Regions from separate parts of the Homo sapiens genome. Here regions 1 and 3 are each linked to region 2. The links come from fine-mapping of genetic effects on gene expression. A gene starts in region 2. Each other region holds a variant in brackets. All regions are shown on one strand. Distances are from middle to middle. Region 1 overlaps SLC1A3 (solute carrier family 1 member 3). Region 2 holds the start of SLC1A3 (solute carrier family 1 member 3). Region 3 overlaps SLC1A3 (solute carrier family 1 member 3).

Region 1 (8,000 bases), 26 kb after region 2:
TGTATGATTTCCATGTGTTTAACTATGTATTGGAACATTCTGCAAAAGAGACACACAAAGTGGTTGCCTTTGCTCTACAGGAGAAGAGGAAACACATAAAGGGGTTAAGAACCTGGGATCTGAGTCCAAATTGTCTGTTTTTAAATCCTAGCTCTGCCACTTGAGTATATTTGACTTTAAGCAAGTTTTAAGTTCATCGTGATTAGGTTTCTCCCTCAGTAAGTTAGTGGTAAAATAGTACCCTCCTCCTGGGGTTGTTGCAAGGATTAAATTTGCTGCTAACCTAGGCAACACCCAGCATATAGCAAGAGCTCAGTAAGCATTAGTTATTTACTATTTATTTCAGTGATACAAACAATATGGGCAGGATTTTGCCCCACCTTTCTGCGTTTTCCAATTCAACTTTTCTCCTTGACCATATTACTGTTACATTGGAAAAAAGCAATAAATATTTACCTGAAGGCCCTGAGAGCTGGGTCAGCTGGATTTTTTTTAGCCACGTAGATTAAGATTCTTATTAGAATATCACAGTTTAGAGACAAAGAATGGATACTTTATGGTTGCTAAGACCCAAGAATTGAAATTGGAGTTGCAGTGACAATTCAAATGAACTTTGTGTCCCATTTCATAAGAAGTTAAGACAGTTCAGTTTCCGTAAAAGACTGCTTGCCTCCTCTAGAAAAGCTTGTGCCAACCCGGTATCATTCCCGCTTCTCCCCACCAACCCACCACCCCCAGCCTTTAGCTCCTAGTTAACTCAGTGCTGGGCATGCTGCTTTCTCTATAACTTACATGGACTTTTTTAAAAAATGGAATCACATGTTTCAGTAATAATAGCAAGGCAAAAACTTTAAAAACATTTACAACACTGGCATAAGTAAATTTTCTTTGGCAAGGAAAGTAAATTAGGTAAAGGGGAGAGGGAGTAAATTTACACTTTTATTGACACCAATACCTTTATTAATTTCTGAACATTTCAGTAGTTATCATGCATAATTTGATTTAAATGCAAATTTCTCATTCTAAAAAGATTTTAAAGTTTCAGTTGTAGAGGGAAAATTAAGGGGAAAATTGCGTTCTCTTTCCCCTATATTCTCCCACGTTTTCAGGGAAAATTTTGGGGAGAAAATCTCTGCTCATTTTGGAGTCTTCTCTTGCCAGCAACTAACAAGTCTGTACAATACAGTTACCAAGGCAATGTCAAGACCATGTAGACAGAGGGAGAAAATGTGGTGTGAAGACAGGGAGATGATGAAAATGGATTAACAATGTGAACATGAGGGGTTTTTCTAACTGGAAAAAAAAATAAAATCACACTATCCTTTAAAAGTGGTTATGTTAGCAATTCTAACATCTGTTGTTATAAAGGAACTTAATTAAAATAAAGCCTTTTTTTTCTATATCACCTGTTCGTGAATGCTTATTTGTTTCCTAATTATGCCCCAATCTTTGTAACTCTGTATTGAGCCAGGTCAGAATGAGTTCCACTGCATTCAAGTTAGACAAAGGGATTTTTTTACTTGTTGAAACTAGAAAGAGTTTTTTTCTATAAGTTCTATTGAACCACGGATTCAGCCAGACCCTCACAGATAATGACTGCAAAGATAGATACATCTCTTGCTCCCAAAGCAGCACAGATATTTGCTGCTTAAATAAATACAACCACCAGCCAAATACTTACTCATTTTGCTAGGGCTGTTCCTTCTGTTTCAAAAAAGACTCAATTTTTCTTTTTCTTTTTTTTTTTTTTTCCTTCAGGTACAATCCTTGGATTTACCCTCCGACCATACAGAATGAGCTACCGGGAAGTCAAGTACTTCTCCTTTCCTGGGGAACTTCTGATGAGGATGTTACAGATGCTGGTCTTACCACTTATCATCTCCAGTCTTGTCACAGGTACCATAAGCAGTTGTTGGTTTGTTTGGTTTTTTTTAAGTGTGTTTATTGCAAAAGATTGCTTAGAAAAGCCAGTGCTTTAGGTTTCTGCTGGATGCATGCTCTGTTCTAGAAAAAAAAAAAAAGTCCCTTCAAAATGATGGAAAGGAGGCTTTAGTAATGCATGAATGATTATAACTCTCGTATTTTACCAATCACAAGAGGAAACGAATTTAAACAGCCACGTAATCTGGTTCGCCTCACAGTGAACGAGGTGCCCTGCTAAACACCACACCATCAGCCTTCTCTGACCACAGTGATGTAGTTGACAACAGCGTACAACAGGTCTGTTTTCTCACCCTCTTATCCCACCCAGATAACATCTGGTTGGACAGCCTATTAGCTATTGATGCAAGAATGCTTGTTCTCAGAACCACCAGGACTTGAGCGGGAGCCTTCTTGGAAGCCTCATCAAGAGGTAATGCCCACAACACTCACCAACTCTGCTGCCACCAACACTTATCTTTTCCTGGTGTACCCGCATGATTTCATTTCCTTCTCCAGTTGCCTCCCACCCCCGTTACCTTTTATGCTAGTGGGAGAAGGGGGAGGGGGCGGGAGATTTTCCCATCTGAATATTTTATCAGTGGACACTTGGATTTTTAACAAGTGGAAGCTTTGCAGGATAGGATTCTATGTTCTATGACAATGAGATAACCATTTATTCCTGCATGGGAAAAGGTGAAAGAGTCATTTGTCTATGTGATTGGTGAATCAGATGGAGCCAAGAAGTTGCAGAAAAATGTTACTGTACATTCCTTCCTGCCCACTCTTCTCTTTCCCCACAGCACATCTCTGACTTGGAGAAGGAATTTCCATAGACACTGCCCGAGCAGGATGATTTCTGGGTTTGTAGGTAAAGCTCAGAACTCAGGTATTACTGACCCTATTCTCTTTTCCACCCTTGGCTCACTGTTCCCCTGTTGGGCATATACCACTCTACCTCTATGTGAGCTGGCACTGAGAATCCTTCCCATCCCAGGGAGTTCTCAAGGATATTTATACTATCCTTCAAGATCTCTGTGTAATGAGAACTTCATAGTACAACTCAAAAGTCATGGAGGAACATTCTATTACATGCCTTGGAGGGCTGGCTATTACTTAGACAGGAACTATGTCAGATTTTCCCTCAATGCCTTGCAGATCTCTGCTGGTTTCCACTTGTCCAGGGCCTTAAACAAGTGATTGCATGTACATATGCTTTCACTGGAGAATGAATTGCCCATAAAACAGTCCTGGAGTTGATTTGATGTACTTGTTTGTGAAGCTGGGATGGTCCATTGCTGACCAGGGGTAATCACAGCAGCTACAGTTCTTACCACAAAAGCTATATTCATGCTGACATGAGGGCACATGCTTATTTTATTATCCATATGCTGATATTTTTCTGGGAAACAAATTATTCACAGAAAGCACTTGTAAGACAGAACCCACATCTGACATTTTCTGTGGTAGAGCAGAGTCTCTCCTCACCATCCCTGCTGGCAGGGCATCTGGATTAAGTGCCTGCAGTTTTCCTATACACAAACCGAGGGGTTCTGGATCTTTTATACTTTCTCTTCAAGGGTGGAACCAATGTTTAGAGGTATCTGCTTTCTCTTAACTGTGCTGAAAATCCAATGTGTTACTCTTTAAAAGAGAAAAGCCCTTATATGATACAATTAGAGAAGTGTTACTTCCCCTTAGCAGCAGTCCCAGTTGATCACCACCTTGAAGTGGAATTTCCTGATTTTTCTTAATACCTAATAACAAACAACTTTAT[T/C]GAAGAAATAAGAACTTTGGTTGTGTAATTTTTCAGAAAAAAAAATACTATGATGCAATCCCTTTGCATGGCTAAAGAGAAATTTTTGGTCAAAACTTGGAAAAATTGTTAACATTTATAATATTGTTAAAGAGAAAAGAATTATAAGCTGCAAACAACTAATATAAAATGAACTTTTAAAACTGTAACCTAATTGCAAGTTGGGAGTGTTGCCAAATTGGACCATTAAGAGAGTTTTAGCTCTTGTCCAGGACTGTGCTAAGGCAAGGAGTCTGAGGGGCAGAATTTAGTTCGCCAAAGATCTTTTTAAGGTGTTAGTCTGAAGTGAGTAATTTCCAAACTACACAGTAATTTAGATATTTATGATCAAATGGAATGAATGATGGATTCAGTAAGAATGTCCTTTATGGTTTTGAATACAATAATTCTAACCCAAATGAGGGTATGACCCAGCTATAATGGGAAGGGAGGAACTTCTACAAATTACACAGACCCCTGGAGGATCCCTGTGTATACTGGGAAATGTTACTGGAGAATGTGTTGCCTAGGGAAGAAACAAAGGCAGGCTCCATTGCTTTAGAGTGGAAAGGCAACCTCAAATGCCTCCAGTGGCCACGTGGGTGATGCATGTACATGAAGCTGCCCTTTCAGGCTATTTTTTGTTTTCCTATTTTGATAGAGTCATGGATACAGAGAAATATTTCTCTTCAACAAGAGAACTAAGAGGGACAAGTATGATGATAAACGGAGAGGGACCCAACTACAGAATAATATGGCAAAAGGCAGGCAAAGAGACTATTGAGACAAGGGCCAGATCTTCCTGTTTTTCAAGAGTATCCAGAAATCTCAAATTTTTTAAGAACCTGCAGATTCTTTGATACAATTCACGAAACAAACCAGTGCAAAGCAAACGCAGTACACCCATTCCAATGTAATTCCAATGGCAGGCCCATTCCAACCCTCAGACTACCAATATTTGAACTCAGGTTTGAATGTCAGAATCCAATCATTGGCAGTCCTGTGCCAAAGCTTAACTGATAATGTGGAATTCACTACTGAACATCATGTTTACTGCTGACTAAACAAATTGCTATTGGAAAGCCTCTTCTCTCCATCTTCTGGGTATAACTGCATTGTGTAGTAGCCATTCTGGTCTTTTCTGCACCAGAAGGAACACTGGAGTAAGAACTCAGAGGTCATGCTCCCATAGGAAATATTTCCCAGTGGGGAAATACTTTATAGACTTGTTTCTCCTAAGTTCAGTTGTCCCAGGGTCTGTAGACAGAAACTGAAATGCATAAAACTATTATTGTGTTTCTTGGACTAAGCTTTTTATTGTGGAAGATTCTAGAAAACATGCTATAAGTTTAATTGTACTAAAGCCACATTTAAATTCTGAGACATCTAAGTTATATTTTTTACTTGAAACATCCGTGTTTATGAGTTGTGGCTCTATAGCCCTTGTAAGCCATGTTCCCTTTTCCCTGAATTTGAAACTCCAATCTTTCCAAACATCCCTGGTGTGTATTAGCATTCCAGAGGCTGCCAGAAAGAAGCTGGGAGGAAGCCTAATGGCTAGATTTGTACTCAAGTACCTATTTTTTGGACAAGAAGACTATGTCTGTGCCAACACACCACACAATAAAATAGGGGTTTGGTGCCAGTTTCTATCGATTTGGTCAGGATGGGCAGCCAAACTAGAAATTTCATGCCAGAAATATGAGTTGGTTTGGCTGACTTAGCCTGATTAAATTCACTGGATAATAATTAAATGTCACATCTGGTTGTGCAGGGTAGACATAACTATTACCTCCTCACTTCTGAATCTTTTCAGAAACTAGTGCTTTCTTCTTTTCTCATTCTAAGTGTGCATTCCCCCTCAATCACTTACCTCAGAAGAAATCTTTGGTGTCACCCCAGTTTTCTGGAAGTGGGGAGCACAACTTTTGACATGCAATCTCTGTGGTGTTGGGCATGATGTAAGTAAAAGAGGTGAGAGAGGAGTGTCAACACGAGTAAAAGCAACAGTGTCTGGGACGTATGGTAGGGCACCCTCGAGGCAGGATTATCAAGTAGATGAAATTTCTCATTTAACATTCATTCATTCTTTAACAGCTGTTTATTGCGCTTCTACTATGTCAGACACTGGGGATACATGAACACAAAGATACAGTCCCCAAGAAGATGTATGTTGGGTGCTGAGGAGAGAGCTTCCCTGCATCCCTTAATTCACATAATATTCCAGTTCCAACTAAAAGGAGATAAGACTCGTTCTCTGTACTCCCAACAAGAAAGTGACAAGCTGATTTTTAAGAACATGATTTCAAATCTGATTTTCATGACACAGCATCTCCATCCTAAAGTCAACTAGCCCAGAATTTTCCATCATAGGTACCATCTCAGTCTCATTTACTTAATATTTTCTTTAAACCAACATACTCTTCTTCCACAGCCTACAATCATTACCCAAAATGGAAACCTCCTATTACTTGTCATGTGAAGGAGATAAGTAACAATGTTATGAAATTGTAAATTGATGCAATTGCCTAACAAAGGCTCTGGGAGCCTGAGACCCGACTCCCCCGCTCTTGTAGTATTTTTAAATGGCTGGGCGTCGTGGCTCATGCCTGTAATCCCAGCACTTTGGGAGACTAAAGCTGGCAGATCACTTGAGGTCACATGTTCGAGACCAGCCTGGCCAACATGGTGAAACCCCATCTCTACTAAAAATACAAAAATTAGCCAGGAGTGGTGGCGTGTGCCTGTAATCCCAGCTACTCGGGAGTCTGAGGCAGGAGAATCACTTGAACCCAGGAGGCTGAGGTTACAGTGAGCCAAGATCGCGCCACTGTAGTCCAGCCTGGGTAACGGAGTGAGGCTCTGTCTCAAAAAAAGAAATATAAATAAATAAATAAATAAATAAATAGAGGGGATTAGCAAATGTTAACAAGGTGTTAAACACACATTAGTACCAAAATAAGACTTTGCCTTTCCTGTAATCCAAAGAATCAAAAGAGAATTGAAAAGAATGACTTTCTCACTGTGATTTAATATTAATTAAGGTAGGATTTCCACACCACCAGAACACCTATCCCACTTTGGAAAGCACTGATCTGGTGGTCCAGACATTCCTGCAGTGTCCCTTCCAAATGACTGTCCAGCTTCTTCCTGAACATATCTAAAGACAAGAGCTCTTTGGAACCCATTTGTCCTTAGAAAACTCTAACAATACTTTTTTTTTTATCCAAAATAAAACAAATAAATTTAAAAACCAGAAAAACAAAACACAACACCTGCCTCTCTGGTCCTCTCCTCTCCATGTGACAAGCTCTATGATGTGTCACATATTATTTGGGCAGCTTCTTTTCAAATCTATAGACCAACAACTTCAGTCAAATGTGGGACTCAATGACTGTTGAAGGCAGTGAGCTAGAATCACCAGCAAAGGGCTTTCTTAATTAAAAATAATAAATGTTGTACCTCAAAGTACGGTCCTTTGGCTTCAGAGAGATGACAGTTACAGTAAGAGTGAACTAAAGTTTTGTCATTTCGTGTAACACAAAAGGGCTAGACAATTCTTAAATCTTCGCATCTGAAGGGTTTGTCAAGGGCTTGCAAAATGAGTCGAAATCACTTAAGAGAAATTTAATATCTTAAACTATGCATTGCCATGGCTCTGGTGTATGTCTGAGGCCTGTTTGAATACTCTGAGCATTTATGGACAAGAAAAGGAGCTGTAGATTTCACCACCTGCCCCCCTCAACACCTACCCGTACGTTGTATTGAAAAAAAAAAAAAACAGTATCTAACGCAGGGAGGAATTTCTTTAGGCTTCCCTTTCATTCTCTATAAAATGTAAGTGATAAGATACCTGTGTCACAAGGTTGTTGTGAGGATTTATGCCTGGCACATAGTGTGTGCTCAATTAATGGTAGCTGTTGGCGGTAAGAGTAGCAGCAAGAGCTGTCTTCTGGCGGTTCCCATTGTATAAATGAAAATTCTAGAGCAAGAAGACAGAGCTTCAAGTCAGGGACACGGAACTAAGGCTCCAGATTTCACAAGTCTCATTTGTCTGTGATCCCTGAAGCAACCACTTTCCTATTAAGGTAAATTGAAGAAACCATAAAATTAATCCGGTAACAACATGGGAGCCAGCGAGAATTCCTACCTCATTACTGGAAGGGATAGGTTTCTGCCCTGCGGCATGGAATTCGATTACCTTATCACAGCTGCATAATTGTAAATATTTTCATTGGTTATACAACTGCTGTGTCTTTTCTGAGAAACTCAGCCCCAATGTGTA
Region 2 (8,239 bases):
GTTTATTGGTGCAGCAACTCTTTTCTGAGCACCTTCCGTTCTGGTTCCTAAGTATGCAGTAGTTATCCATACAGGCCCTGCCCTCAAAGACCCTGCAGTCTAGACAGGGAGAATTGCAGCACAAAGTGGTAATGACTCTGGAGATTTAAACCCAGGGGGCCTTGGGAGCACATAGGAAAGGCAACCAAGCCCGTTGGATTTGGGGAGTGGGAGGAGATTAGAGTTGACTCCCCAGAAGAAATAACAGATTGTAGGCCTTCCTTTTAATGTTCTTTCCTTTCTTTTCTATCTGTCTTTAAAAAAACTCCTGGGGGCTTCTTTTGGGAAAAGATGAGAAATCAACATGAAGAACTCTTGTCTTAGCGCTGACTATGATCCCCAGCATATTACTCAATCCCTACTGATCTCCAACATCTGGGTCTACAGGACCAGTAATAATAGAGTAGAATAGACCTCAAAGTATTATCACGAAGATTAAATTAGATAATGTGTGTAGAAGTACTTAAAAAACTATAAAGCCCTGTAAACATGTCTGCTGAAGGCTTCAATTCCAATCAACCTACATAATCTTTTCCAGCTAAACGGATATTCTTGGTTCTACAAAGTCTTGACTCATGTTGAGCAACTGGGGAAAATGTCACTTTTCAATATAAATAATAATTGATAACAATAACATGTGTGAAGCCTTCATTAAAAAGCAGACCCTCTTTAGCTTTAGAATGGAGAAAACATGTTGTTTTTTAAGGCATCATTATGTCCACCTGTTGGATCACTTGTGAGAAAAATAACAGTTGGTGTAATTTCTTGCCACGTGGGAATCTATTTGGGGGGGTTCCTCTTGCTGGTCTTCACCTTTGTGTTGGTGTTCCCTAGGCTTCTGCCCTTGCTCAGTCCTCTTCTGAAACCCCATCAGAGGTCAAAACAGAAGAACTTGCTAGAGCCACATGCTGATAACTAACTTGAGTGAAGTGAGCAGGACAAGTGGGCTGGAGAGTGCACACTCCACCTACAGGAGGCAGCCTTGGCTCAGTGTCAGCCGACCCCTTCAAGGGCCTTGATATTCTCAAATGGTCAGTATTTTTCAGTGTGAATGTGAACTCACCTAGTTTGTAAATGCTCCTCCTGCCCCTTGACTTCCTAACCCAAGTCTTAGTCACTTCAAGGCTTTGCATTTTACCTAAAACGAAAATTACTTCCCTGCTTAAATCCTGTGGCTGGCTCCCCATTGACTAGGAGTGGAGTTCAAGTTGTAAATTCGGCCCCTACTGGCCTGTTCTCCAGCAGGAACCACTACTGGCTCCCTGCCATGCCACACGATGGCTGCTATGGGCAGGCACCTGCTAGAAACAGTGTACACAATGTGGATCCAGGCACAGCCCCTTCTCTTAAGTTGCTACCAGTCTTTTTGACATACTAACTGGTAAATAGGCCTCAGCACACAGCGATCTCATAACCTTCTGTTGGGCCCTGTCCTGGCCCACTGCTTAATAATTACGATGCGTTTATGGACTCCTTGAGGAAAGAAACTGGTATTTGGAACACAGTGGTTGCTCAATGTTTGTTGAAAGAATAAATGAATGTGATAAAGTTAATTTTAGTTCACCTCTCTGTAGTTGGATGTTTTTAGGTTTCATATGACTATAACTTTAAAATAAAACCTAGTTATTTAAAAATTCAACTAACCAGACTTCACCACAGGTTTTTTTGTTGTTCTGCTTTTTACATTCATATTTAAGAAGAAAAAAAAATCAAAACAAAATGGAAGACAACTACCACAAGTTCTTCTACACCTACTGCCTCTAACACATCCACTGTTACACTCTGGGGTTAAGTCAGGTCCTGTTCATTGTCTTAGCATTCTACAATTTCCAAATTCTAGGAGGAGAATTGACATTCATGATGATCCTAAAATGCAAGCTATTTAAACAAGGAATGATTTTAAAACCATCATTAAATTAAAAATCAACTTGGAAAATATTGAAAAAAGATTAAAAGGTTTTCTAATCCATTTTGTTGCTCAAAAAAAAATCCAATTAACCAAAATTTCCTAATTTTGAATGGTGAAGTTTGACTGGCCTGTACCATGCTAAGATCAGCACGTGCTTATTACCGTAATCTCTTGTTCTTCAAACCAATAAATGCTCCCTTTAAGGACAGGTTGGATTTGGTTATTTCTTGTTATACTGACATTTTTTCCCAAAGAAAGAATTTACTGATAACATACTTCATCACACAATGTTCACAGAAAGATCTTGACAGATTTTTTCAGCAGGAACAGCATTTGCTGCTGGTGTTTGTGTTTTTTTCATTTGATAATACTAACATTAATATGATCCCCCAGCTTCTGTGTCTCCCACCCTGAGTAGCTTTAAATGAAATACAGCATACAGAGACTTGTTCATAATTTCTTGATCTTTCATTTATTTAGTGTTTCTAGAAGGAAAAAAAAAGATGTTTTAAAGCTCAAGGGACTTAACTATAAAGTAGAGGGGAAAAGGTAGAAATACGCGTTGAGGAAACCCAGGAGGCCCCCAGGCATGACTTTTGCTATAGCTTTCCAGAAAGAGAAAGTGGTGCTTAAAGAAGTAATTCCCAATGTTTCCCTCCAGACTAAAATTGGATGAACTCTGAACTGAGACTCTTTGCATCTCATTTTCTCATTAGGTTTTATTACAGCCAACAAAACTTTCAGTGGTGAATTACTTCCCTTCTCAACAGAATACCAGACTCCCATAATGTCTACACAAACTGAAATAATGAAATGGTTTTTAACCAAGCTTTAGGGATTAGAGAGGAAAAAAAAAGTGAAAAAGAAAGGGCACCAGGGTCTTCCCATCTCTATGCTAACCAAAGTGTGGTTTTCCAGCCCTTTTTCTTGCCTATTAACAAAAATAAAAACAAAAAATGGAAATGCCACTGGGCTTGAAACCCCATTTAAAATCAGATTTCTCTTTCGAGTTCCCTTGCAATACAAGTCAAAGTCATTTCCACCAAAAAAAAAAAGCGGTGGGGGGGGGGGGTGTGCAAATTAATCCTAAACTCATGGCTCAGATAGGACCTGGTATAGTAAATAAATGCTTTTAAAAGTAGTCATGGCATTGAGAAATGGCTCCATGCACCTAAACCAGAGGCACCAATGTAAAAACTAGTAATTGTGTTTTAACACAAAAGATTGAAAAGCGTTTTGTTTCACATCCTAATATTATTCCACCCACTTAAAAAGAGTTACTTAATATTGACTCTGTATTAGGTATAAGACAAGTTCTTGCCCTCAAAGAACTTATAATTTAGTTGAGAAACCAAAACTTAACATGAGCTTAAAAAGAAGGATGCAGTACAAAACATGGTATAATTAAGTGCTAAACAATGTAGTATAGATGCTCAGTGACCTAGGAGATCAGAGGAAGGGAAGGGTCACTGAGGGCTGGGAATGTCAAAAGCATGTACTTTCAGTAAGTTCTTAAAATGATAGCATGTTAGAAAGCTGTTATAATTGCTGCTGATTTGTAATTTTAAAGCATTGACATGATTCACCATTGCTTTCCAACCAGTAGCTGTTTAAAAGGACATACAGTTGAGGGTGAAAGGAGATATTTCTTTATGATCTCCAGAGATTTGTATTGAGGGGAAAAAAGACATACTTTCTTGTTGAATAATAGACCAAGAATTGAGCATATTTTGCATGGGGAATATTAAATTCAGTGAACAAGAATCCAAACCTCAGGCTGTGATTCTGGTATAAATTTTTGTTTCTAATGAACCATTTTCTTCCTTCTAAAGAAGATTTAAGTTTTGGGAATAAGTCACCTCAAAAAAATTTTTTTTTATTTTCTAATATCTATTTTCACAATTTATTTTTCTTTTAAGAAAAGTGGACTAGAAGCTCAAGTTACCTTCTCAAGGCAATGAGAATTTTTTAGCTCTAAAAAAGTTGTGTGTGGTAGGGAGAACATTTAGCATCCTTTAAAATGGAGACATCTGAACAGCAACCTATCTTTTGAATCACCAAATCTCAAGTGTACTTTGCACTCTTGGTCTTAAAATGCTTTTCATTTTCTAGTTTGGCAAAAATTCCAGTCTCTTTACATTTGCTACCTTTTCCGTCTTTGCAACACAGGCAGTGTGAGCTAAATTAGGTTTGTTAAAATGAAGTTTTGAAGTTTCAACTGCTGAAATAGAGGCATGTCCCTAACTTTAGACAAATTTAGAGAATCGTAGTAAGCATTATTTTTTTTCTACATACTTGTCTGCATTCAGTGTCTTCCCAAGAAACGTCAGTTAATTCCCCGATTCGAAAAAGGAACTTTCTCGTAACAGTTGTACAACCAGGCTAAAGAGCACACCCTCGTCTTCCCTGAAAGGGAGGAAACATGCAATAATGTGAGGTAATTAAATTTAGCCTTAGAAAAGTCTTTGAAACGTTCTAATCAAGACTTTCAGCTTTCCGATTGTGTGCGCTTTATTTTTCAATTCTTCCTAGTCCCGGTTTTGCATTTCTAATGACAGTGAACTGACAAAGCGTGAAAGTGGTCTAAGGAGCAAAACAAAGCCAGCAAGCCTGCTTCTGGTGTGCCAAGATTAATCAATATTCCAGAAACCTCGGGGTTTCCCCCTCCTCCCTGTGCGGTTTCCATTCCCCACTCCTCCTTTCCCGGGCACAGACTCCTCCCCTTTTCTTAAGTTGCCCTGATAGTAACTTGCAGTTTCAGAGCACATGCACACTGTCAGGGCTAGCCTGCCTGCTTACGCGCGCTGCGGATTGTTGCTCCGTTGTACCTGCTGGGGAATTCACCTCGTTACTGCTTGATATCTTCCACCCCTTACAAAATCAGAAAAGGTAAGTGTCACATTCTGTGTTCCTGCTGGGTTTAATTTCTCCTTTCACTTCTCTGCCGATGTATTTTGCCTTCCAAGCAGAGGAGTAGCCTGAATCAAGGCTAGCCATTTTGGTAGATAAAGTCCTTGTTAGTCATCTCACGTCGTGAGAGTGTGGTGTCTGTTTATGCCGGGTCCGCTGTTAATTCGGAGTTGAGTCATTCGGGGTGGATTGGGGGCAGATTGTGGCGCGAGATCTAGAAAAGGATCAAGGTTGAGCGGATCTGCTTAAAAGTGACTGGTAAGAGGAATCAGAGCTATTAGTTTAAAAAAAAAAAAAATCTGGTCTCTCCTATTTCCCGGTCTTCACTTCTCCCTAAGCATTTAATCCAGTGTGAAGTCTTAAACAAATTAGAAGTCTTAGTATCACTGACCCCAACTTGCAATTTTATTTAAAAGGCAAACTGTTAAGACAAGTCTTTTTTTTTCCTGCACTGGGATTGCGAGAAGTCATTTGCGAGGAGTCCTTTGGTTTCCAGTTACCTCCCCCACAGGCGCACACGCTGGCTGCTTGCGTTGGCAGCGACACACATCCATGGTACGGCTGGTTTTCACTCGGATTGATTATGGGAAGGGCTATGGATTAGAGCTCCTGTAAAGCACCAGGAGGAATCCCTTGATTTTTCAGAACAGCTGATTTCCACCAGGAAAGAGATTTACTGAAATGTAGTTAAATAGCGTGAGTGCTTTAAAGAAACCAGAAACCACAAGCTGTAATGTTTGGAATGAAAATTGGTTTCATCTCATCTGTTCTAGAAATCCTAAATTTTAAAACGCTAAAAAGTCAGCGATAGTTTCCTCGGAAGATTCCAGCATGTGTGTCACAAAGAAAAACACTACTTCATACTTCTACTTGTGATAAACGAAGCTGAATTGTGATTTCAGATGATTTATAGATGTGCCCAGAGCACTTTGCTTATTTCATGGAAAAAAAATGAAAAAATTACCCTGTAAAATAGTCACATGTATTTCCCATGTACTGTGGGCACTTGTGTTCTTTTTATGACCATATTTACTAGTAGATATTATTATATTTTTTTCTTAATGAAGAAAATAGCTGGTTACTTTACTGCATGTAACAGAGACAACTCCCACCTATCAGTATCTTAATTATTTTTATTGACCTGGTTATGCTTTCAACCATGTATACAGCATAATTTGTCAAGTAATGATTGAATACTTTCTGTGCATTCAGTTCAATTGGACATTTACTGATTGTGTACGTTGTGCAAGGCATCAGCTGGGTTCTGCGGGGGAGGGTGGGAATAGGGGTTCTCAGTCAGATCTAGCTCTGAAGAACCCTTTTATAGCCTCATTGGAAGGGGAAGGACGGATTTTTAAAAAGAAAATAGAATATATTCCGAATTTATGCACATTTCTCACACGTGGTCCACTAAAATATGCACACTGCAACCTTGAGGTCTGGTATTGTGGCTCTCCAGTCCTTGATTCCTGCTGAGATTATGCAATTTGCCAAGAGCTTGCCTGGTGTGGAGCAGCACTGATTTCTCACCCCTGGAGGCTATAACTCATGTCTCTTTTTCTCCCATTCTAGTTGTGTTTTCTAATACCAAAGAGGAGGTTTGGCTTTCTGTGGGTGATTCCCAGACACTGAAGTGCAAAGAAGAGACCCTCCTAGAAAAGTAAAATATGACTAAAAGCAATGGAGAAGAGCCCAAGATGGGGGGCAGGATGGAGAGATTCCAGCAGGGAGTCCGTAAACGCACACTTTTGGCCAAGAAGAAAGTGCAGAACATTACAAAGGAGGATGTTAAAAGTTACCTGTTTCGGAATGCTTTTGTGCTGCTCACAGTCACCGCTGTCATTGTGGGTGAGTCATTTGATTAAAAACAAAAAAACCTGTATCTTGTTTCTCTGGGGCATCTGGCTGCCCGGGGAATATTATCAGATGAACTAGTTGTAGGTATCAAAATGGTAGCCTAGGCTTTCCTCTGAACTTGATGATTTTTCTCCATAAAAATGACTGTTTTGGCTTGTTTGGAGCAATATATAGTAAACACATCATTAGGCATCATTAGGCATTATGCAAATCAATTGTGTGAGGAAGAAAAATAAATAAAATATTTTCCCATTTCATGTAAGGATAAGGAAGTGATCATTTAATCATTAGGCATGACAAAGCAAGCATGCTAGATTTGGCCAAAATGTAATTATATACAATGTCAGTTGCACTTAAAACTAATTTATACAATTAGTACACCTAAAATGACATGTTGGTTCCAAATAGTAATTATATTCTAACTGGTGCTGACTTGAAGCTGAGTATCAACGCTTAGGCACAGAGACCGAATATTTTATGTGTTTGCACTCTCTCACCCAGCAACTGGGAAAGGTAGATTGGGGAAAATGTTAACACAGATCTCTTTCATTCATTGCTTTGCAGAGCCTGCCATAACCAGCTATACCTTTTTTTGAATCATTTCCATCTCTTACTAATTTAGCAGGGTTGACAGCAATCTGTACTAATAAAATATTATTGTTTTGTTTTGTTTATTGATCTTAAAAGTTATAGTTTATTACTTATGGGTGGCATTGATCCTACTTTAAAATATAGCTGAAAAAACCTACTTATTTGGAATTTTTGACCAAACCAATACAGAAATCCTTAGATTGACAAACATATACGCCAATGCCAGGTTGTAAAAATATTCCAACTTAACCTACCAATTTGCCACCAAAAAAGAGGCATTCAGTACCGTTTTAATCTCTACTTTGGAGTTTGCCAAGATTTCCATCAACTTTAAAGAGGTAATGATTTAATAAAGATTAAGAAAATTCTGTAGTGTGTAAATATAACTTTTTTCAAGAAAATTGAATTCTTAAATTGTAGACAAATGAAGTATAGCAGGAGAGTTTGTCACAAGATTTTAGATACATCCCATTTTAACATCATTGTCTTCCATTAGTAATCACTGGTGATTAATGATGGTTCAATTAATTTAGAGATATTCAAAGAGAACATGTCCTAACTGACCCAGAGAAGTAATGGCTTTCCACAGTAGGTTTCCAGGCTTGAATATATTCCTGGGTGAAATATTTCAGTCCCACATCATTGTCCTGGAAGTCAATGCAAAATACAGTCTGCTTGCCTCATTTGTCACTCTGAATCAAAGTCATTGCCAAGCCAAGCAATAGCTGCATAATAATAATTGCAAACATTTATATAGTACTATTCCAGCTACTCTGTAGGAGTTTTGTTTATATTAGCTCACTTAATCCTCAAACAAGCCTATGAAGCGAGTGAGAAGGTATGATTACTATGATCTTCCTCATTTTGTAGATGAAACTGACTGTGGAGAGATCAAGCAATTTGCCCAAAGTGACAACACTAGTAAACTCTAGA
Region 3 (8,238 bases), 80 kb after region 2:
CCATCTCTTAGTTTCCTTCTGCAGAGGCAACCAGTGTTACCTGCAAGTTTCTTCTGCATCCTTCCAGAGATACGCCAGGCATACGCATGTGCATGTGCAAATATAATCCCTCCTTTTTGCTTATTAAAAGTTATTTTGCACAAGGGACCCATGAGTCTAATGGCAATGGGACACTTTAAGCCTCACTATCCAGATCAGCCTCTGCTCTTCATTGTTGTGGGGTTTTTTTTAAATTGTTATTAAAAGTACATTTTGGAGAGCAAACTAAGTCAGATTTGGGGGGATTTTTATCACTCAACATTTTGTTGTGAAATGCCCTACATATAGGGAAGTTGAAACAATATTATACCAACCATCCTCTACCAGATGGAAAAATTGCAAACGTTTTGCCATTTTTGCTTCTTCTTTCTCTTTCTCTGCCATTATGACATTTCACCTGTACAAAATTCAGCATGCATCTCCTAAGAATAAGGATATTTTTCTACATAACCACAATAGTAAGAATCTTAAACATACTTCCAGAATATCCAATCTATATTCAAATTTCCACAGTTGTCCCCCAAAACATGTCTTTTACAGATTTTACTTCCAGACCAAGTTCAAATCCACATTTATGGCCTACATTTGGTGTCTTAGTTTCTTTTCATCTAATCAGTCACCACACATTTGTTGTTATGTTTATTTAGAAATAAGTTGTTAGACTCTGTGTATATGTTTTGTGTTAGTAGAAAATGATAATAGTTGTAGTAGGATGCATCGGAGTAAAAAGGAAAAGGCTGATCAGGGCCAGAGGTCAATGACTGACCTGGGGGTTCTGGGAACCTCAGGCCCAAAGTAGTTATAATGGGACTTAGGAGATCATTATCTCAGCTCACCTGTAACCTATACTTTGGCATATTGATTGAAAGGCTCTGGGTTATTAAAAAAAAAAGGTGACAGAGTTAAAAATAACAGTAACAGTGACAAGCAAGATAGAAATATATTTCTCTTTCATGCAGCACAGCTCTGCTCCACAAAGCCTTCAAGGCTGATTGATAGGTGCTCTGTGGTATAAGAGACTAAGTCTCTAGGGTATTATCATTATCCAGGTGGTCCGGGATGACTCACCACCCCCAGATTTTAGTCAGTCGGAAGTGGGGAGATGGTATACCCTGCAAGTTGCTCAGTACCTCCATGCATGTCTGACTGGCCAGAACTTAATCTAAGCTTCAAGGGAGGTTGGGAAGTGTAGTCTTCATTCTGGGGAGCCATATACCAGCTAAAAGTCCCAGTATCTTAGAAGGGGACCAGTATGGGGACCATGAATACTTTCTGTGACAGACTTAATACTTTATTAATACCACTTATAACCAGATAATACTTTACTATTTATAAAACATTTGCTTTGCAAGCCAGGTCTACACTGCCTTCATAAAAAGTATTTCTAATACTATAAAACTTTGTTCATAAATCATTTTGCTTTTGAATTAACTAAGCAAACCAAACTAAGAAACCAAATTTGATTCTTTTGACAACATTAATCATGAATGTTCAGTAACTTTACAACCCTCCACTTGGATAGGGGAATTACTAGAAACAAATTATTATTGTAACTCTACAGCATTTTAGACTTTGCCTTACAAAATACTTTCAGGGATGTTTAAAAGTGTATAGCTGCCAGTTTATTTAAAAACGACTAGAATAATAGGTCCAACTTCACAAGGGTCATTGTACGAGGACCAAATTAGATAAACCATGCTTAGTATATCAGAAGACACATAGTAAGCACATGATAAATATTAGTTAGCATGATGATTAGTTCAATTTTTTTTTTTTTAATCTCATTTACGGGCCAGGCATGATGGCTCATGCCGGTAATCCCAGCACTTTGGGAGGCCAAGGTGGGTGGATCACTTGAGGTCAAGAGTTCGAGACTAACCTGGCTAACATGGTGAAATCCTGCTCTACTAAAAACACGAATATTAGTCGAGTGTGGGGGCATGAAGCTGTATTCCCAGCTACTCAGGGGACTGAGGCACGAGAATCACTTGAACCCAGGAGGAAGAGGTTTCAGTGAGCCTAGTTTGCACCACTGCACTCCAGCCTGGGCAACAGAGTGAGATACTGTTTCAAAAAAAAAAAAAATCTCATTTACGTTTTTTCTGAAGCGCGTCCTCTTGTGTTACATGGCAAGTCAGGCATCGGCACCGTGCGTATTTTGCAGCGTATATGCTCTACGTGGGGAGCTTTGTAAAAGTGTTTTCTGTTCTGGTACTTCTGTTAACAGCATCACAGCCACAGCTGCCAGTATTGGGGCAGCTGGAATTCCTCAGGCGGGCCTGGTCACTATGGTCATTGTGCTGACATCTGTCGGCCTGCCCACTGACGACATCACGCTCATCATCGCGGTGGACTGGTTCCTGTGAGTATGCTTGGCCTGCATTCCAGCTCACTGTCACAGGGTCCCCCTCTGTCACTCTAGGGCACCAGGCAGCCTGGCACATCTACAGAAAGAACTCTGAGGAGAGGGGCCTCTCGGCCCATAGTTAAATTGTCCTTATTGTCTGACCCCTGGTCCTTATCTGGAGACCGAGCCCCAGATGCCATGTGCACTCACTCCCCTGTCAGCCTAAGGGGCACATCTGGCTGCCACACATCTCACTCCATAAAGCCATTCAGGAATTGGGAAACCCGCTGTCTGCAAAGGCAACATAAATCAGCAAGGCTGTTTCTGAGTTGCACAACATGACACCACAGCAGCTGGAACAAAGCTGCAGGCCCCACATGCCAGCTTAGGCCCTGCCTCTGTGTGCTTCCCATTCCAGTGGGAATGATTTTCCCATCCTAGCCCAATAGGGTGAGGCTGAGCTATGCCGACACTGGGAAGAGAGCTAGTGTCATTAAGTGGAATTGAGTTTCGGATCTAGGGAAAGTTACAAGAAATGTGCCCTCCACATTCTCAAACTCTAACCTCTACAGGCCCATCCCTTCGCCCCCTTCCCTCGCTCTTCCAGCTGGCATTCTCTGTGCCTTTTCTCTTAAAAATTTCCTTCCACTTTTGAAAATCTTTCCCCAGGATGCCCAAAGCAAAGCCTAGAACAGAGTACGTGTTGGAGTTAACACAACATATGTTCACTAGAACTGCAACATGAAAAGAGCTTGACAGTGTGCGTGAAACCCCAGACTGGGCGAGAGGATTCACTCCCCAGTTACTTGGACCTGTGTTTGTGTCCTGACCTTGTGTGAGACCGGGCAGATTACCCAACCACCCTAGTTTCTACCTCTGTAAAATGAGGGTGCCCGTGTCCTCTACCTCCTAGGGGTACTGCAAGATTCAGTGCAATGATGCCTAGAAAGCATGCAGCCTACTGTCTGGCCCACAGTCAGCATCAGTTAACATGAGCACTCTCATATAAAGCTACAGTTCTCCACAGTCTTTGATCTTTACACTTCAAAATTATTGAGAACTGAAACAGCATTTGATCTATATGGGTTGTATCTATTCATATTTATCATATTAGACACACTTATAAATTTCCACTTGTTAATTTATTACATGTTTTATTTAAAGGTGATAATAATTCATAAAATAAAATAATGGAATGAATTTATTATCATCTTTAAACAAAAAGGTTATATATGCTAACATAAATAGCATTTTTTTGCAAAAAACAACCATTTCGACCCCAAAATTTATTTTATTTATTTACTTGTTTTGAGATGGAGTTCCATTCCTGTTGCCCAGGCTAGAGTGCAATGGCACAGTCTTGGCTCACTGCAACCTCCGCCTCCTGGGTTCAAGTGATTCTCCTGCCTCAGCCTCCTGAGTAGCTGGGATTAGAGGCGCCCGCCACCACGCCTGGCTAATTTTTGTATTTTTAGTAGAGACGGGTTTCACCATGTTGGCCAGGCTGGTCTCGAACTCCTGACCTCAGGTGAACCACCTGCCTTGGCCTCCCAAAGTGCTGAGATTACAGGTGTGAGCCACGGTGCCCGGCCTCGACCCCAATATTTAGTGAAAAGAATGGTACTATTTTATGTTTTGCAAGTTTTCTTAATGTCTGGCTTAATACAAGACAGTTGGAGTTTCCTGTTTCTGCAGTTTCACAACTGCTTCAG[T/G]GAGTTGTGACATCACACATCATGTAGTCTTTGCAAAACTCCACTATACATTCATGAGAAAATGAGACTGAGAGGGACAAATGACATCTTAGTATTATTATGAGAATGGCTTAAAGAGAAGGCTCGTTCCCCACTGTTGGGACTCTCACTTCAGTCAAACTAATAACTGAACATTCATCATCTATATGGCCTTATAACCTTTAATAGCTACTATTATGAATATTATGTGTCTATTACGTAATCTTGCAGTTGGTAGATACGGCGAACTGAATGTTAAGAGGTGCTTCGCTGGCCAGTTCCTAACGTAAGTTGAAAACTTGTGATGCTCACGGGAGCCTCGTTTTTCCCTCCTCCCCACCCTGCCTGCAGGGATCGCCTCCGGACCACCACCAACGTACTGGGAGACTCCCTGGGAGCTGGGATTGTGGAGCACTTGTCACGACATGAACTGAAGAACAGAGATGTTGAAATGGGTAACTCAGTGATTGAAGAGAATGAAATGAAGAAACCATATCAACTGATTGCACAGGACAATGAAACTGAGAAACCCATCGACAGTGAAACCAAGATGTAGACTAACATAAAGAAACACTTTCTTGAGCACCAGGTGTTAAAAACCATTATAAAATCTTTCCATCTCATTACAGCTCATTCGCTCCAGCAAGCCCGTCATCTTCCCTTTCCTCCCTTCTGATAAGACTGGAAAATAGTCCTCCAAAACACAAGGGAGGATTTTGGGTGGCCAAAGTGTACAATTTTCATCCCACAATTGAAATTTTTAAATCATTTCATGTTAGTCTTACCGAATAAGGTACCAAGATCACAAATAGTGTTGATCAGATCTTACAAGTTTATGTGGCACACAATCCTATAAATGTGATTTTTTTATATAAGTTAAAGAGACAAATAGTAGGCTAAAAACATTTTAAAATCAACTTTTGAAATTTAAAAATCTTTCAGAATACAATTCAGTTTTAGTTTCAAAATGTTAACAACTTGAATTACAACCGGTTATCAGTTGGACAGTAAGATTTTATCCCTTTCTCTTCTGACTGGTATACCTATTTCATTAGTAGCTAGGTGCACATATACATCTAGCACAGCTGTGAGGACAGACAGAAGGCAAAGTTTCCATGTGGCCTTGAGCAAGTCCCATCTCACCTCTAGGCCTCAGTGTCCTCATCTATAAAATGAGGGACTTCCCTAGAAGTCTTCATGGTCTCTTCCAGCCCAGACATCCTGTGATGTCATGAAAGCACCTGCCCTCTGTTTCCCCTCAGAACACCCTGTACCATCCATGGAGCACGAGGCCTTCAGAAAAGACACTTCAATGGGAGTGAACATTTCTAACTAAGGACAGGATGGCTGTGTGTGGTGGTCACCAGGTCCTGTGAGCAAAGTGCAGGTTATGCAAGTCGCCAGGCAGGAGGCCATTCCAGGAGTGGGATTATTCATCAAACTCTTTGCCCAGTTCATCCCAATGGGGGAAGTATTCCCTTCTTTCCTACTCTGGGAAGAATGTCTCCTGCCACTCCTCAACTGATGATAGACTTCGAAAACAGATGAGAAGACTAGCAGCTAGCAAGGGTGCTTGTGGTCACACTGTGGAACACTAAAGAGCTAGGAAAGAGTTGAGCACAGGCAACATTACAAACAAAGGATTTGAAAACACCAAGAGTACAGGTCTTCTTTAAGGAAGAATAAAAAAGAAGAGGTTCATTTTTCTGGCTTTTTTTTTCACCTGAAACACTTTTTCTCGAGTCCAAAATCATTCCCCCCGTGAAGTCTGCTTACCAAAACATAAGACGACTTATATATTTGAAAGAAGTCAAATGAATGAGCTCTCTAATAGAAGTCCATGAGTTGAGTGGGTATTTCTTATTTGAAAGTGTTTTTCTTTAATCAAAAGTCCTTAGAATGAGGGAAACAAAATATTTATTTGTTTTGGAATCCCACTTATCAAATCATTCAAAACTTTCAGCTGGAGTGGGGTTTGCTTTTGTTTTGTTTGTGTCCATAAGAGAAATGGTAGAAGATGAATCAGTATGAAGACACTGTCAATGAGGTTATGAGAAAAAAACAGCAGGGGCATTAGTTTCAGGCAAGGCAGCTCCCAGGTTTAGAGATTAATTTTTACCCCCTAAGGAATATCCAGTCAAAGACGCTGAGTGGGAGCTGTCAGGCAGTAGCAGCTGTGTTTGAGTTTCTGGCTGAAAATGGTGAAGAATGGACTTAATTATGCTAACAAACTGAAAAATCTAGACATAGATCCTCTGATATACAATTAGAGATATTTTTATATAGACCCCAAGCATTCTGTGCATAAAAGTTAACATTAGGCTGTGGTGCAGTAACCATTTAATGTCGAGGCTCTATTTCGGAAATACACTACAAATGTTAAAGTACGTGGCTGTCCTCTTAAGACACTAGTAGAGCAAAGACTTAATCATATCAACTTAATTCTGTTACACAATATGTGTTTTTTAATATACTAACCATTTCTTATGGAAAGGTCCTGTGGGGAGCCCATCCTCTCGCCAAGCCATCACAGGCTCTGCATACACATGCACTCAGTGTGGACTGGGAAGCATTACTTTGTAGATGTATTTTCAATAAAGAAAAAAATAGTTTTACATTAACATCTTTGCACGTTGTTGTTATTCTTCTCCTCAAAGAAAAATACATTTTCCATTCATGGAAATATTACAATAAGCTCAGGGCAGTCTCTGGAAGGATCCCATGCAGCAAGGTAAAATCTTGGCAGAGCCAGCCACAAGAAAATAAGTAAGGACATGCTCTCCTGCTCAACTCCAAGAACTGGAGCTGGAAACAGGAGGAGGTGAGCGGAGCACTTTGCTGTAGCAGGCCATACTTCCTTGTCCATGTCAGATTCAAATTTCTCAGATGAATTGAATCATTTCCATGTCGGGATTAGAAAAGTGTGATACCACCATGGGCCCTTCCGAAAAAGTAACTTCCTGTCTGACCTCCAAATTAGGTAGATTTATCTCTGTGATTATTACCACCATTTGTGAAAAGAGCTAACTAAGATCTCAAGGGATTTCCAGAAACAGCCATTGTGCTGGTGCTCTATTCATTAAGAACAGCTTACGGATGACTACTTTTCATCATGCTTTTTAGTAAAGAATTCGCAGGCAATATCATGAAATCTCCAGATTGAAGTAGTGTCTGGAGCCTATAATCTGACCCTCTCTACCAGCAGGTGGCAGCCACCTAGAGGAAAGGCTCTTAAGTTGGATCCATGGACCCCTAGGTCATCCACATGAGAGTTCAATAGGTTCATCGCCCTTGAAGTTGTGGGGAAAGTTTTGTGCATTTGCCTTTTTCTGGGGGTAAAATTCTTAATTTCAATCGGTTTCTCTAACAGATCTTACGACTAAAAAAAAAAAAAAATTTACAAATCGCTATGTTTGAACCATACACCCTAACTTTTGTGAAGGCATATGTGGTATTTACATGACCAGTTTGGGAAAAGAAAGGCTGCTCACAAACTGAGGGAACCAAGCCTGGCCACCCTGAGCAGATCAATATTTGCCCCCTGTGAAACGTTCTGGGAAGTGCCGCATAAAATCAATCCACTGCTAGGAAGTGCTCCCTTCTGCCGGGACCATTTTCTTCCCTTCTGCAGCCCACGCTGGGTTTTGGCCACCTCCACAATGCAGACATAAGAAGCAGGTCATCTGCCTGTGGGAGGTCTGTGGAAAGCCCCTTATGGTTAAGGGAAGTGCCTCTCAGCCAGAGTATGACAAAGAGGGTGGAGAAGCAGGCCTTAGATCCCAACATGTGGTAGTCACACATGTGCTCACAAATGGAACTATGAAAAATATGCAGGTTCACAGCTTTTTTTTTTTTTTTTAAGATACAGGGTCTCACTCTGTGATTATGGCTCACTGCAGCCTCGAACTCCTGGGCTCAAGCGATCCTCAGCCTCCCGAGTATCTAGGACCATAGGCTCACACCACCACGCCCAGGCTAATTTTTATTTTTATTTTTTGTAGAGACAGGATCTCGCTATGTTGCTCAGGCTGGTCTCAAACTCCTGGCCTCAAGCCATCCTTCTGCCTCAGCCTCCCAAAGTGCTGGGATTACAGGAGTGAGCCGCTGCACCCAGCCTCTGGC

What was found.
Region 1: its variant is fine-mapped to the expression of SLC1A3 in whole blood (TOPMed, PIP 0.99).
Region 3: its variant is fine-mapped to the expression of SLC1A3 in whole blood (TOPMed, PIP above 0.99).

Annotation. Positions count from the first base shown.
Region 1 is chr5:36,627,692-36,635,691 of GRCh38, forward strand. SLC1A3 (solute carrier family 1 member 3) reads left to right here. Exons shown (of 10, transcript NM_004172.5): 3 at 1,759-1,896. Among named protein-coding and RNA genes, the nearest start is that of SLC1A3, 25 kb to the left of the region's middle. The variant T/C (reference allele first, on the strand shown) is at 3,698.
Region 2 is chr5:36,601,899-36,610,137 of GRCh38, forward strand. SLC1A3 (solute carrier family 1 member 3) reads left to right here and starts at 4,708. Exons shown (of 10, transcript NM_004172.5): 1 at 4,708-4,837; 2 at 6,431-6,706. The coding sequence starts at 6,526. RefSeq lists an enhancer at 4,815-4,914.
Region 3 is chr5:36,681,598-36,689,835 of GRCh38, forward strand. SLC1A3 (solute carrier family 1 member 3) reads left to right here. Exons shown (of 10, transcript NM_004172.5): 9 at 2,267-2,401; 10 at 4,468-6,737. The coding sequence ends at 4,672. The region is part of intron 1 of SLC1A3-AS1 (SLC1A3 antisense RNA 1); the gene reads right to left. Among named protein-coding and RNA genes, the nearest start is that of SLC1A3-AS1, 39 kb to the right of the region's middle. RefSeq lists an enhancer at 7,813-8,042. The variant T/G (reference allele first, on the strand shown) is at 4,099.